Linked DNA regions of Homo sapiens: region 1 is linked to region 2. The links come from fine-mapping of genetic effects on gene expression. Tissue or cell type: monocytes. Region 2 holds a variant in brackets; the other region holds the start of a gene. All regions are shown on one strand. Distances are between the middles of the regions.

What was found. PIP is the estimated chance that this variant, and not a neighbour inherited with it, causes the effect.
Region 1: it holds the start of TMEM9B, and the variant in region 2 is fine-mapped to the expression of TMEM9B in monocytes (BLUEPRINT, PIP 0.95).

What each region holds. Positions count from the first base shown.
Region 1 is chr11:8,959,481-8,967,584 of GRCh38, forward strand. It overlaps TMEM9B (TMEM9 domain family member B), which reads right to left and starts at 4,962. Exons shown (of 5, transcript NM_020644.3): 1 at 4,729-4,962; 2 at 2,612-2,703. The coding sequence starts at 4,833. It overlaps TMEM9B-AS1 (TMEM9B antisense RNA 1), which reads left to right and starts at 5,195. Exons shown (of 5, transcript NR_073431.1): 1 at 5,195-5,668; 2 at 6,424-6,564; 3 at 7,061-7,176. RefSeq lists silencers at 4,426-4,615, 4,656-5,155.
Region 2 is chr11:8,900,532-8,908,637 of GRCh38, forward strand. It overlaps a transcript of DENND2B not described here. Among named protein-coding and RNA genes, the nearest start is that of AKIP1, 6.6 kb to the right of the region's middle. The variant CA/C (reference allele first, on the strand shown) is at 3,358.

The sequences.
Region 1 (8,104 bases), 59 kb after region 2:
CGGGAAAATGAAACTGATCTATTTAGTTTCCTACTTCAGCTTCAGAAGCTTTGGCAACAATACCTAAGAATGACTTGGGAATTTTAAGTGCTAAGTAAGTATTGAGTATTTCTTTTGAAGGATATATTTTAATAACAAAAAGATACTTGAGTGCTGTGCAAAAGTTGTGCCCAGCTGGAGAGAAAGCAGGAAGGTTGATTTTGGCTGACCAGTCATTACAAACAGAGCTAGACCTAGTCAGAGGTTAACCACTTAAGGAACTAGGCAACACCTCCCCCTAGTGCCAAAAGTAACACATCATTAGCTTTAAATCACCCCAAACACAAACTAGAGCACTCCAACTACTCTTAAGTTTTAAGTCAGCCAGCATAAGTCAATGAAGACTTAAAGATAAAAACTGGACAAAATGAAAGGCCCAGAAAACAAAAGGTAAAACTATATCTAGGCCCTCACAGATACTGGAGGCCTCGTAAAGCCATAATTCTGGTGAATCATAACTTGCCTGCCCCGTAAAGTCAGTTAAAATTTTTCAGTGCCAGCTGGGAACTTATCCCTAGAAAAATGCTAAGCTGCAGAAAAGAAACAAGGGAGAGTGGGAGAGAGGGAAGAAAAACCCCAAGCAAGCCTTATTCTCAACTGTTTATTTTCTTTGTTTCTGTTTTTTTTTTTTTTTTTTTTTTGAGACAGAGTCATGCTCTGTCACCCAGGTTAGAGGGCAGTGGCACAATCTCAGCTCACTGCAACCTCTACCTCTGCGGCTCAAGCGATTCTCTACCTTAGCCTTCCGAGTAGCTGGAATTACAGGCGTGTGCCACCATGCCCAGCTAATTTTTATATTTTTAGTAGAGTCGGGGTTTCACCATGTTGGCCAGGCTGTTCTTGAACTCCTGGCCTCAAGTGATCCACCTGCCTTGGCCTCCCAAAGTGCTGGGATTACAGGTGTGAGCCACCATGTCCTGCCTCAACTGTTTTCAAAGCCAAAGCTATTTTTACTAATAACCAGGGGTTAATGACATATGGTCCTGTCTGAGTCTGAAATAATGAAAAGTTAGTGAAAAGATTAGTGCTAACCACTTGAATAGTGAGTTCATTTGCTACTCAAAAGACAGGCATTGCATTTCATTACTGATAACAGAATAAACTGTAAGCACTGAATAAATTTGGAAAATTTATAGAAGTAACATAAAGATTTATTTGAACATTCTTTTTTTTTTTTTTTGAGCTAGGGTCTCGCTCTGTCACCCAGGCTGGAGTGCAGTGGCGCGATCTCGGCTCACTGCAAGCTCTGCCTCCCGGGTTCAAGCGATTCTCCTGCCTCGGCCTCCCGAGTGGCTGGGATTACAGGCACCCGCCACCAAGCCCGGCTAATTTTTTTTGTATTTTTAGTAGAGACAGGGTTTCACTCTGTTGGCCAGGCTGGTCTCGAACTCCTGACCTCAGGTGATCCGCCTGCCTCAGCCTCCCAGAGTGCTGGGATTACAGGCGTGAGCCACCGTGCCCGGCCTGAACATTCTTGTATCATATAAAGTAACTTCCTGATATAAAACCTTTAAGAATATGGCCAAATCGCTTGGTTAATATGACACCACTTACAGTGGAACATAGAGGTTCACAAGAAGTTCTCAAGAACACACTTAACAAATATGAGACTGAACCTAAATGCGTATCAGGGAAGAACAGACAGTGGCATCAGAGAAACTAAACATACTCAAAGGCTGCCTTTTCTTTTTTAAAGTCAGGTTGGAATACTGTTAACTGAATGAATTTAATCTTGCTTTCTAACTCTTTGATGGCTATTTAGCTATGAAATCAGATACACGTGAAAGCTCCTACCATTTGGAACTATTTTTCCTAAATTCCTATCCCATCCATCTTCCACCGTGGTTACAAACCATAAAACATCACAATTCTATGGGAAGGAACACATTCATCCTGCTGTAATACAACTGCATCCCAACTGCTTCATGGCACACGTAGAAAAAGCTATTTGTCAGGTCTGCTGGGATAAGCAGAGAAGGCTGCTGGTGGCTAGTCAGTCAGGATCCCCCAGTCATCACAGGCCTGCCTGACTGCCCAAGGACTGAACAGGTCAATATCTTGGCACAACTGTAACTTCTTCATTTACACCAAATGGGAAACTCTGACTACATAGCTCATTTCCACTTCTTCTTGAGCCTTCTGACACTTTTAAACATAGCTTCCCATACTTGGCAATACATCATCAAAACCTACAAGTTGTAAAAATTATAACCCAGACAAACGAGGCTTGCTAACCTTCCACTGAAAAGCAAGAGGGAGAAAGGTCCCTCACCAAAACTTGAGGGAGTACAGCAAGATAGCTATGGGTAGTTTAGGTGCCACAAACCCAGTCATATGCTCCCATGAAACTCTGCCTACATGGGTCTTAGTGTTTTGGCTGTATACCTTTAGGCCTGCAGGCATCATGCACGTAGGGCCTCACTCTCACTTTTTCAAATGGAAGTAGAATTTCACATTTTTGCTTCAAATGAAATACTTAAAAAGAAAACTATGCATTTGATGAACATTCTGGGATAACACTGACAACCACAGAAACAAATGTGACAGGTAATTCAGTAATCCAGATACTTACCAATCTTTCTGAGATATGTTCTTATTATAAATATGCCCAGAATTTTCTTTATAGGGAGGGCAGATACATTTACATCTGACATCCTCGAAATTCTGTAACCAAAATGGAAACAGTATAGTGCGTTGACAGTTTATCATCAATATTTTTAAAAACTGTACCATATACATTTTGCCAAGCATCCTCTTTAGAATACCAAGTATTCTAAAATCATTCATTTAAAACTTTAACAGACACAGTTTTTAAAAGCCACAGTCCTTTATGGTAATGCCAATGAATCATTATATATTACATGTAGTTATTTTGAAATAATACCTAATACATGATCTAAGACTTATTAACCATATTTATGGGTCACATGACAATCAAATTATGTTAATGTTATTACCATCTATCTGCCACTAGAAAGACACATGGTAAGCAGATAGTTGTGCCTGTAAATAAGAATATTCATTACTAAAGGATGGGAAAGAAACTAAAAATTATTCACAAAAAAGGTCACAATTCTACCTATCATCCTTTCACCCTCTGGTAGAAGGCACTGACATTGATAAAACGGGTTGGGCCAGAGTCCCGTAGAAGGGATGAAATGTTAGAGGCACCCACCTACAACTAGAAAGGAAGTACACACAGGAAGTAGCCTGACTCTGAGATCAGTTTAGTATACTCTTCCCAGGAAACTTTGCTTCTAATTCCTGGTTGACAGACAGAACAACTACCAACAAAACAAGTTTCAAGAGGTGGAGGAACAGGTGACTAAGTATCTGGATAGAGAAAAGAAGAGATGCTTCCTCAGCAAAGGGGAATCTGTTTGAGAAGGAAGTGGCTTATCATTCCCCAGAGGACCTTGCCCACTCCTCCTATATACAGTGATATGTCTGGCAGAGCTATTGACAATTCACAAACGTATTCAGCAACCACTTAGTGAGCATTTGCTCTGTGTTAGATCTTGTGCTCAATAAGGTGGATTCAGATAAGCATAAGACATGGTTTCTGCCCATAACCAGGACACACCCTAGTAAAGGAGACTGAAAAATAAATACATGATCACAATACATAAAGTTATGAGGCAAGATATGCAGAGGGTGCCAGCAATGTTTTCAAAGTCAGGAGACGTGCTGCTGTCCCTGTTTCTGGTAGGAGGTAGAGATGGTTTCAAAAAGAATCTCTGAATCAAAAACATTTGCCTGCCTGTAACCTTTCCCCACTCCTACATTTAAAGATATTATAAATTAAAGCTCTTATTTTTAAAAACGCAATGTCATTCTGTTTTCCCATCATACTAATGTGAATCCCTTCTGTTCTCCCCCAATGATGAGCTAGCTCATCAAAGAGGAAGCACAGGTATGCATGGAGCTAGGGCAGGTCTGGAGAGCTGGGGCACCAGAGAACAGTATGAGGGAACTAGAAGGTCAAGAAATCGAACCAGGGAGGCCACAACCTCACCTCTCTTGCAGTTTGGTTCTTCCCTTACCCACTAAATTATCAGGAAGAGAGAAAGCAAGAAAGGCACCAAGGGACTCGTGGAGGGAGTTAGGTGAGAATATGAAGCAGGTGAGAGATGCTCCGTAGGCCCTATTGGGAGGGAAGTAGGCCAGGAGGGGCAAGTTCCCACCACAGGAAGGGAAGTGTTCAGGGGTGAGCTGAGCTGAGTCGGCCCTTGACAGGGAAGGCTCTGTCAGATGGGGGCTTCCTATCATTCTGGCTTGGGGCATGCGGGGCCTGTGAGGCTGGCGGAGGGCGCAGGTGGGCTGTCAAGAGCTTAGGGTGGAAAGTTAAAGGCTCTCGGAGGTGAAAAGGTTGTCAAGTGTAAGATGCGTGCAGCCGGGGCTGGGAAGGGAAATGTTAAGGCGGTGGGGGGCTGCTGTCCGGACTGTGGGCACTGTCGGGGCTGGGGACGACCGTGGGGCGCTGCCTGCCAGGCTGTCGGGGCTGAGGGCGAGAGTGCCGCCGGGCAGTCGGGAGGGGCGGGGCTGGTGGCGGCGGGGGTCTGCCGGAGCTGTGAGGCCAGGCGTATGGCTGTCAGGAATGGGCCAAGGAGCAGGTTGGCAGACCCAGTTTCCGCAAGGCCGGTGGTAGGGGAGGAGCTTCCGTCAGGAGCGAGGCTGGGCGGGACTCACCTTGGCGGCGTCTGACAGCTGCGCCAGCAGCAGCACGGAAAGCGCCAGGCACGACAGGCTGAGCAAGGAGCCAAGCCGAAGAAGGCCTCCCCACAGGGTCGCCATCGCTGGGGGCCCAGCGGTCCCACAGCCCGGAGCCCCCGCGACCGGCTCCCGGCTCGGGCTCAGGCTCAGGCTCAGGCTCAGGCACAGGCTTGGGACCCGGCTGGGGATCCTCCGCCCGCACTTCCGTCTGGACGCGAAGGCGTCACCGGGCGCGCCGGGTCAGATGCAAAAAGCATCCGCCCCGGAACCGGTTACCAGTGCGAAGGGCCGGGAGGCTGGGCAGTCCTGGTGCCCGCCTTGGCCTAGCCCCGGCCCCGGGACGGAAGGGGGCCTCTGGGGTGGCAGCCTGGGCCCAGTAGAGCTTTGCATCTCTTGGATATCTTTCCCGGGCGCAGAAGCTGCGGGGCTTAGGGAGTCGCCATTGCGCTGGAAAGTCCTCCCGCCCACGGAGACCCCAGCAAACTCCGAGTGTCACACAGTCGCCTCTGGCGACCCGTGCGGGCCGGAGCCGTTCGCGCACAGGCAGGGCGGGTGCTGAGCGTGGAAACGGGGCTGGAATTGGCCGAGCCATGCCTTTCCGGGATGCCCACCGCCAGTCAAAGGGTTGGGGGTGGTCTCTGCACCTTAAGTACTAACCTGCCGCCCACGCGCCTCCTGACCACAGCACCCCGTCGGCTTTCTAATTCTGTGAGCTGCCCTCGTGGGCGTGGCCTCCCTGTGGAGCTCCCCATGTGCCTCCCCTTGGTCCAGCCTGCAGCTAGGAAGTGGGTCACAGCGACGGGGCTGGGCTGGGCCAGGCCAGGCTCCGGGAGATGTGGAATTGGCGAAACAACTGCCCCAGTAGTATCCTCCGCCTAGGACTCCAAGAGGTGGCGAATTGGGGCACTACGCCCGGGTAAGGCAGTGCCTGTTCAGGGCTGCCGACCTGTCTCCCCAGGGCTGTCATTCTCAGCAAGTACTTTAGGAGTGCCTTAGATCGGCACATTCTCCCATTGAAATATTTTTGTTAGTGGAGACAAGGGAGGTAATGGCAAGGACACGGATCATCACAGCCCCTAGGGATTTGTTGAATGACCTTTGGCAAATCACTTCCCTTCTCTGGGCCTGTAGTTCTTGGCTGAATATGAGGGAATGGATTTCAAATTATGCTCCATGTAATACCCGTGTTTTTACCTCTGTAAACAGATTTTTTTGTTTTTTTTGAGACGGAGTCTCGTTCTGTCCCCCGGGCTGGAGTGCAGTGGCGCGATCTCGGCTCACTGCAACCTCCGCCTCCCGGGTTGACGCCATTCTCCTGCCTCAGCCTCCCTAGTAGGTGGGACTACAGGCGCCCGCCACCACGCCGCCCGGCTAATTTTTTTTTTCTTTTTCTTTTTCTTTTTTTTTTTTTGTATTTTTAGTACAGACAGGGTCTCACTGTGTTAGCCAGGATGGTCTCGATCTCCTGACCTTGTGATCCGCCCGCCTCGGCCTCCCAAATTGCTGGGATTATAGGCGTGAGCCACCGCGCCCGGCCCCAACAGATTTTTAAAGATGGTCTTTTCCCAATTTGTGGAAATGTTTTAACAGAATGCTCTCAATATTTTTCGCCCATGTGATTCTTAGATTCATGTGAATCTAACACAACGTATCTGATACTGTTCCCAACAGGAACCAGGGTGGCAGGGCTAGATGTCCTCTCACCAGACTGCCCAGTGAAGGTGCTGTCACTTTGATGAATTATCAAGGCTTTGTAGTGGGTCTTCTACTGGACAAAGGACAAACTGGAGACTCCCTGGATCAAATGTGTTGGTGAGGCACTGAATCTGATTGCTGAAAGGTGATTCAGCTGCAAGTTAGGCATCAGTTTAGGGTTTTCTAGGCTTGGCATCTAAAGGGAGTGCCTGCTGTAGCTGAAACCTCATAGGCCTTCTCTTCCTTCCGAATTGTTTTCAAGGCCTTGGGGGTACAGAGACTTAGAGAAAATACATAGTTGTGCCTCAGACTGATGGGCCTCATCTGTTTAATGGAGAAACACCAAGCACACTCAGTCTGGGCGGAATTTTAGAGCTCCATAGTATAACCACTATCTAGCTACATGTGGCAATTGAGCATTTGAAATGTGGCTAGACTGAATTGAAATGTGCTGTATAAAATATACACTTAATTTCAAAGACAATATTTTTAAAATGTAAAATATTTCAGTAATTTAAAAATATGGTTTAAATATTTTAGATATGTTGGGTTAAATAAAATATATTAGTAAAATATTTCACTTGTTTTTTGACCTCTTAAATGTGGCTGCTAGAAAATGTTATAGTGCTGTCAGGAAGTGCTGTTCTGGAATACAGAATGTGGCTGCCGTGAGTGGAGTGTGACTATGAGATAGTCGCCTGACTGGAGACAATGAAGCCTCAGGCCAAGGTAAGAGGGCTGACAAGGAAGAACTGGCACAACTAGAGCCGAATGTTTGGGGGAGGTATATGTCTGCCAAAAAATGAATATAATTTCAGGTGACTCAATAGAAGTGGAGGGATCAGTTTCTCTTGTTCTGCCCTGCTCTTATCTAGGTAACTCTTACTTTTCCTTTAGGTCAGGGTTCTTCTAAGCCAGAAAACCTTCACTGACTTAAGTGCACTCCTTTCTATGTTTGCATAGATCTCTTTCTTAACTTTACCCCATTATAGTAAAATTATGTTTTCACATTTGCCTTTATACCCAAACCTCCACCAAAATATTGTGAGCTCTCTGAGGGTAAGGACTTTGTCTTATTATTGTTATACCTGGAGACAGATTAAAACAATATGATGTTTGTGGGGACCAGGGAAAAGGGGAATGGGAGAGGCTCCTCTGGTTAGTCTAAAAGAAAAGTATCAGGCACCTACTTGAATCCTCATTTGATTTCTTTCTGACCATGAGAGGGGATGCTGAGATGCCCAAAGATGTGCAAATGGCGGGATCCGGCGCACCATAGTAGGCAGGGGAGTGAAGATTTCTCACCTCGGGTCTTCCTAGACCTTCAGGTCACACGGGAATTGTTCTGTTTATAGACGGCGCTGGCCTTAGTACTCACTCTCCCTCTATTTTCCTTGCTTCCTTATAACTAGGTTTCCCTACTCACTTCCTCAAAAAGAGTGATGTAGGTCCACGTGTACCCTCCCAACTGGCCTGGGTCCTCTCCCTTCTTTGTAAGGCCTGAAAAATTCCCTGGTGGGGGATGGTTAGAAAAGGAAGAGGAACCTTCTTTGTAAGTGTGCAAGTCAGAAGGGGAGGGAGAAAAGTGACAATTTATATATCTGGGACAAATATATCTTGGACCCAGGTTTTGCCACCTGTCTGCATCCCCCCATGC
Region 2 (8,106 bases):
GAGGCAACAGTGAGCCACACTTGCGCCATTGCAGTCCAGCCTGGGTGGCAGAGCAAGACCCTGTCTCAAAAAAAAAAAAAGAAAGAAGTAGATCGTGACAAATAAAGATGCATATTCTAATTCCTAGAACAATCACTAAAAAATTTTTTTAAAGGCCGGGTGCGGTGGCTCATGCCTGTAATCCCAGCACTTTGGGAGGCCGAGGTGGGTAGATCACCTGAGGTCAGGAGTTCAAGACCAGCATGGCCAATATGGTGAAACCCTCTCTCTACTAAAAATACAAAAAAATTAGCCAGGCATAGTGGTGGGCACCTGTAACCCCAGCTACTTGAGCAGCTGAGGCAGGAGAATCACTTGAATCTGGGAGGCAGAGGTTGCAGTGAGCCGAGATCATGCCATTGCACTCCAGCCTAGGCAACAAGAGTGAAACCTTGGTCTTGAACTCCTGACCTTAACTGATCTGCCCACCTTGGCCTCCCAAAGTGCTGGAATTACAGGCGTGAGCCACCACACCTGGCCCAAATTTTAATATCTTTTCAAAGAACCAACTGTTGGTTTCATTGATTTTTCTCTATTTTTCTACTTTGTATTTTATTGATTTCTACCTAATCATCATTATACCCTTCCTCCTGCTTCCTTTGGGTTTAGTTTGTTCTTCTTTTCCTAGTTTTTCTTTTTCTTTCTTTTCTTTTCTTTTCTTTTTTTTTTTTTTTTTTGAGATGGAGTCTTGCTCTATTGCCCAGGCTGGAGTGCAGTGGTGCAATCTCAGCTCACTGCAACCTCCACCTCCCAGGTTCAAGTGATTCTCCTGCCTCAGCCTCCCGAGTAGCTGGGATTACAGGTGCATGCCACCACATCTGGCTAATTTTTGTATTTTTAGTAGAGACGGGGTTTCACCATGTTGGCCAGGCTGGTCTCGAACTCCTGACCTCAACTGATCTGCCCACCTCAGCCTCCCAAAGTGCTGGGATTACAAGCATGAGCCAGCATGCCCGGCTCCTAGTTTCTTAAGGTAGAAACTTAGGTTATTGATTTGACCTATATTCTTTTCTAATATAGACATCTAAAGCTTGGCACTTCCCTCTAATCACAGTTTTAGCTGCCTCTCATACATTTTGATATATCACATCTTTGTTTCCTTTCAGTTCAAAACATTTCCTAGTTTCCCTTGTGATTTAGTCTATGACCCATGGATTATTTACCTATGCGTTGTTTAATTTGCAAATATTTGTAGATTCCCCAAATTGTCTATTGTTGATTTCTAATTTAATTCTATTGTGGGTAGAGAACATACCTGGTATGATTTCAGTCCTTTTAAATTCATTGAGACTTGTTTTATGACCTAATAATGGTCTGTTTTGGAGAATGTTCTGGGAGTATTTGACAAGAATGTGTATTGTGCTATTGTTGGATGGAGTTTCCTATAGGTGTCAAGGTGGCTGACAGTATCGTTTAGCCTTCTATATCTTTGCTGATTTTCTGTTTGTTCTATCAGTTATTAAGACTGAGGATTGGGCTGGGCACGGTGGCTCATGCCTGTAATCCCAGCATTTTGGGAGGCTGAGGTGGGCGAATCATGAGGTCAGGAGTTCAAGACCAGCCTGACCAACACGGTGAAACCCTGTCTCTATTAAAAATACAAAAAGTAGCCGGGTGTGGTGGCACGCGCCTGTAATCCCAGCTACTCAGGAGGCTGAGGTAGGAGAATCACTTGAACCCAGGAGGCAGAGGCTGCAGTGAGCTGAGATCACACCACTGCACTCCAGTGTAGGTGACAGAGTGAGACTCCATCTCAAAAAAAAAAAAAAAAGAGTGAGGTGTTGAAGTCCCCAACTACCACTGTTGAATTGTCTATTTCTTGCTTGAATTTTGTCAGTTTTTGCTTTGGTATTTTGAGGCTGTGTTGTTAGGGTCATGTACATTTGCAAGTGCTATATCTTCCAGATGTAATGATTTGTCATTTTTGTGATTCTGATATGCCCCACTTTGTCTAGTGATATTTCTTGTCTTCAAGTCTATTTTGTCTGATGTTAATACATTTACTTCAGCAATCTTTTTTTGGCAAGGGGAGTCGCTTAAAGCAACACAAGTTTATTATCTTAAGGTTCTGGAAGTCAGATGTCTGAAATGGTTTTCACTGGACTACAATCAAGGTATCTGCAGGATTCTGTTTCTTTACTCCAGCAATATTATGCTTATAGTTTACATGGTATATCTTTTTCTTTAACTTTCAACTTATTTGTGTGTTTGACTATAAGTTGTGTTTCTTGTAGACAGACAGTTGGATCTAAGCCAGTCTGACAATCTCTGCTTATAGAATGGGCTGTTGAGACCATTCACATTTAACATTATTATCGAGATGGCTGAATTTACATTTGATCACAGTGGTGCAATCTCGGCTCACTGCAACCTCCACCTCCCAGGTTCAAGCAATTCTCCTGCCTCAGCCTCCTGAGTAGCTGAGACTACAGGCATGCGCCACCACACCCAGCTAATTTTTGTATTTTTAGTAGAGATGGGGCTTCACCATGTTGGACAGGATGGTCTCGATCTCTTGACCTCATGATCCACCCACCTTGGCTTCCCAAAGTGCTGGGATTACAGGCATGAGCCACCACACCTGGCCATCTGTATTTTTTAAAGTTTTATTTATTTATTTATTTTTTGAGACAGAGTTTCACTCCAGCATAGGCCAACATGGTGAAACCCTGTCTCTACTAAATATACAAAAATTAGTCGGGTGTGGTGGCATGCACCTGTAATCCCTGTTACTTGGGTGGATTAGGCAGAAGAATCAATCACTTGAACCTGGGAGGCGGAGATTGTAGTGAGCTGAGATTGCACTACTGCATTCCAGCCTGGGTGACAGAGTGAGACTGTCTCAAAAGAAAAAAAAAGGATATTACAAGTTGACAAAACTTTAACTAGACTGACCAAGATGTTAAAAAAAAAAAAAAAAAAGCAAGAGAGAGAAGGCACAGATTACCATAATCAGATCTTAAAGAAATAAAAAAGATTGTGAGGGAATATTACCAATAGCTTTTTGTCAACAAATTAGACAACTTAAGTGACTGGGCAAATTCTTAGACACCAAGTATTGAAACTGACTCAAGATGGAATAGAAGATCACTTGAGTTCAGGAGTTCAAGACCAGCCTGGGCAACATGGCAAAACCACATCTCTACTACAAAAAGTACCAAAAAAATTAGGTGGGCCTAGTGGTGATGCATGCCTGTAGTCCCAGCTACTCGAGTGGCTAAGGTGGGAGAATCACCTGAGCCCAGGGAGTTGAGGCTGTAGTGAGCTGTGATTATGCCACGGCACTCCAGCCTTGGCAACAGGAGTGAGACCTTGTCT[CA/C]AAAAAAAAAAAAAAAAAAAAAGAAGGAATAGAAAATATAAGTAGACCTAAAACAAGGAAAAAAGTTGAATTAGTAATTAAAAATCTTCCCACAAAGTAAAGCCCAGGCCCAGATGGTTTTAATCAAATGCTTAAGAATAATACCAATTCTACACACTCTTCCAAGAAATAGAACATTCCTAAATCATTCTATAAGGCCAATATTATCCTAATACCAAAAGACACAAAGACCAGAAACAAGAAAACTAGAGATCAATATCCCTCATGAATATACACAGAAAAATCCTCAGTAAAATACTAGCAAACCAAATTCAACAACGAAAGATTGGCTTAATATCCAAAAATCAATTCATTCAACACATGTTAATAGAATAAAAAATAAAAACCACATGATCACATCAATGGACATACAAAAAACGTCTGAAAAACTTCAAAAATCATTCATGATAAAAACTTTCACTAAACCAGGAATAGAAGGAAACTTCTTCTCAACCTGAAGAAGCTAATTAAAAATAATTTTTAAAGATAGATGAGAACTTCCTTAACCTAATAAAGAGTATCTACAAAAAAACAAATATCATACTTAATGGTAAAAGGCTGAATGTTCTGCCTCTAAAATTGGGAACAAGGCAAAGATGTTCCCCTTGCCACTTCTATTCAACATTGTACTACAGGTTCAAGCCAGTGCGATTAGGCAAGAAAAAGAAGTCCTGATTGAAAAGAAAAAAGTTAGCCTTTCTTTATTCACAGAAGATCTGATCCAGTATACAGAAAATCCTAAAGAATCCACAAAAAAATTCTTAGAACAAGTAAATGAGTTTAACAAGGTTACAGGATACAATATCAATATGAAAAAGTCAACTATATTTCTATACACTAGTAATAATTTCATCTGAAAATGAAATTGAGAAAACAATTTCATTCACAACAGCATAAAAATACTTAATAAATTTGTTAAAAGAAGTGCAATATGTACACTAATCACTACACAATATTAGTAAAAAAAATAAAGAAAACTGAAATAAATGGACAGACATTCCATGTTCATAAATTCAAAAACCCAATATTGTTAAGATTGCAATTCTTCCTCAATTAATCTGTGAATTCAATATAATCTCTATCAAAACATCAACAGTTGTTACACAGAAGTTGACAAACTGAATTTAAATTTTATGGAAATAATGACTGTACTAGAATATAAAAATAATTTTGAAAATGAAGAACATAGTTGATATACTTCCCAATTTCCAAACTTACTACAAAACTACAATAATCAATACAGTATAATATGGCATAAGGACAGACATATAGATCAATAGAACATAATTTAAAGTCTAAAAGCTAACTCTTACATTTATGGTGAATTGATTTTTGACAAAGTTGCCAAGGGAATTTAATGAGAAAAGGATAGTCTTTTATACAAATGATACTGAGAAAATTGAACATCTGCATGAAAAGAAATGAATCTAGACCCTTACCTCATAATGCACATAAAAATTAATGCAAAATGGCATAGAGTTAAATGTAAAAACTAAAATATACAACTATTAGGAGGAAACATAGAAAAAATCTTCAAAAAAAATTTTCATGACCTTAGGTTAGGCAAAGATTTCTTAGATATAACACCAAAAGCACAATTTATAAAGGAAAAAAATTAATAAGTTGGAGTTCATCAAAACTTTAAATGTTAGTACTTCAAATTACACCACTAAGAAAATGAAATACATGACACAGCCTGGGAGAAAATACTTATGAATCATACATCTGGTGTGGGTGCGGCGGCTCAAGTCTGTATTCCCAAGAGAAATGAAAACATGTGTCCACACAAAGTCTTACTATGCATTATCAGTCAAAATAGCCCCAAACCAGAAACATTTCAGATGACCATCAACCAGTAAATGGATAAACAAAATGTAATATATTCATATAACGGGATAGTATTCAGTCATAAAAAAGAATGAAGTATTGATACATGCTACGACATGTGTGAGCCTCAAAAACATTATGCTAATTAAAAGAAGCCAGGCAAAAAAAGGTCACATATTATCAGATTCCATCTATATGAATTGTCCAGAAAAGGCGAATTCATAAGACAGCAAGCAGAAGACTGGTCACCTAGGACCAGAGGCAGGAGCTGAGAACTGACTGCATATGGTATACACTAGGGATTTTTCTCAGGTAATGACAGTGTTCCAAAACTGCACTTTGGTGATGTTGACAACTCTGTAAATTTACAAAAAATACTGAAATATACACTTAAGACAGGTAAATTTTATCATATGTACATTATACCTCAATAAAGAAGTCTTTTTTTTCTTTTTTTTTTTTTTTTTTGAGATGGAGTCTCGCTCTGTCACCCAGGCTGGGGTGCAGTGGCGCGACCTTGGCTCACTGCAAGCTCTGCCTCTCAGGTTCACGCCGTTCTCCTGCCTCAGCCTCCCCTGGGACTACAGGCTCCTGCCACCACGCCCAGCTAATTTTTTGTATTTTTAATAGAGATGGGGTTTCACCGTGTTAGCCAGGATGGTCTCAATCTCCTGGCCTCGTGATCTGCCCATCTCAGCCTCCCAAAGTGCTGGGATTACAGGTGTGAGCCACCGCGCCCAGCCAAGAAGTCTTCAAAAAAAAAAAAAAAAAAACTCTACATAAATTTCAACTGTTTATATTAAATATCTTCCAAATACTATTCCTTTGATCTCTGACTTTTAAAAATGACAAGATTTCAATCATTCCTGCTCTGCAACCAATTTTTTTAACTCCCAGTCAATTTTAAACAGATTGTGAAAGTTAATTCTCAGAAGTTTGATTCATTTTCTTTAATCTACATCATCAAGATGACAATTTTGATAATGAGTTTCTTTCATTCCCCCAATAACCCAGTGAGATGATGTAATCAGGCAAAATGAATGATCTAATGACTCAGTCTGTAATACTACCTTACAAAGCTGTGATGATTCCAAAGCTCTTAAGTCTGCTGGAGAAATAACAATACCATTTGTCAAATAAAATGATTTATACAGTTTCTGGTATGTACAGTATAAATCACTGTCTAACTCTGGCACAGTACCCACTTTTGCATCCTGGGTTTTTAACCCTTTTTGGCCCCCTTCACATAAAGAAAAGGAATTTACATTGCTCTTCACTGGACTTGTTTTTTCTCCTCAAAAAGTCCCAAATACAGCACCAGTCTCTTTCCCCATTTCACAATTAAAGACCTCTTCCAACGCATCTCCTCCAAAACATAGAACCCTGACAACTAACTTTCATCTGTTCTCATTAGTGAATTTACCCTTGTGAAGATAGAAGTCATTAAAAACTCATATCAATAGTTTATTTTTCTGTCAATACTGACAGTCTATTTCCCTGTTGACCAGGCACATTCCTAATTAGTTGCCCTCTCTCCATTTACAATTCCATTTTCAGTTCTCACCAGTGGCTTTCATTTGGCGTGGGCTATATTTGATCCACAAGGGGCCTGATGGTAGGTCATGTTCTATCATTATTCCCAGCCAATCTTAAAAAAGATAAAAAGGAATCTCTCAAGTCTCTCAATCTGTGGTTTACAGGATGAATCTTTAAAATTATAAATATGCACATATAAAAATATATTTACAAATATATTTACAAATAGAAAAATAAAAACAAATGCAAAGATTTAATTTAGAGTCTTTTGGTTTCAGTTTCATTTCAAGCATCTTCTTTCCCATAAATTTCTAAATGTTAAATTCTGAGAAAATGTAGTTACAATTGAATATTCATTACATTCATTAAAGTTCATGTAGGTAGGTGTTTTTTTAATAGAAAAGCCAACTCTTTTTTTTCTTAAGATAGGTTCTTACTCTGTTGCCCCGGCTGGAGGGCAGTGGCACGATCATAGCTCACTGCAGCCTCAACATCCTGGACTCAAGCAATCCTCCCATCTCAACCTCCCGAGTAGCTAGGACTACAGGTATGAGCCACCATGCCAGGCTAGTTTTTTAATTTTTTAAAAAATAGAGACAGGGGTCTCACTATGTTGCCCAGGCTGCTGTCAAACTCCTGGCCTCAAGTAATCCTTCCACCTCAACCTCCTGAACTTCTGGGATTACAGGTGTGAGCCACCACAAAGCCACCTCTTTATGTGGGCTAACAGAAGTCTATTTAACTTAAAAATTAAATCAGAGTAATTTCAACAAATGGCTACTGAACACCCGCTACTTAACAGGTCCTGGAATGTTTAGGGACAAATAAGGAACAGTTTCTGCCTTCAAGGAATTGAAAGGCTATTGGGAGAGAAGAAACCATAACTACACATAATTTAAATTAGATTGGAAAAGTACACACAAAAAATTTTTTTAAGGCTATGGCAACAGAGGTGGCAACTGGGAACCACTGGGAAAAGTTTCAAAGAGCTGACCTGACAAAAAGAAAGTAGTGCCTCAACTGGAATGACTAAAATAGAATGGGGAAGAGAGACAAATGAGATGAGGTGTGGCTATGATACTGGGTAAGTGAGAGCATATTTTGGGAGACCAGGCTGAAGCTTAAGATAATAATACTAGCTAATATTTATTGAGCACCTACTATGTACCAAGTACTATAAATGCACTTTATAGATATTAACTTACTTGATATTCACAATAACCCTATGAGGAATGTGCTAAAACCTTGAAATCCATAAAAAATAAAGAGGACCAAATTCTGTCCCACTCCAACCACACTTATTGTAAAAGCAGTTAACGGGTATCTTATCTACCTCTTCTCTCACT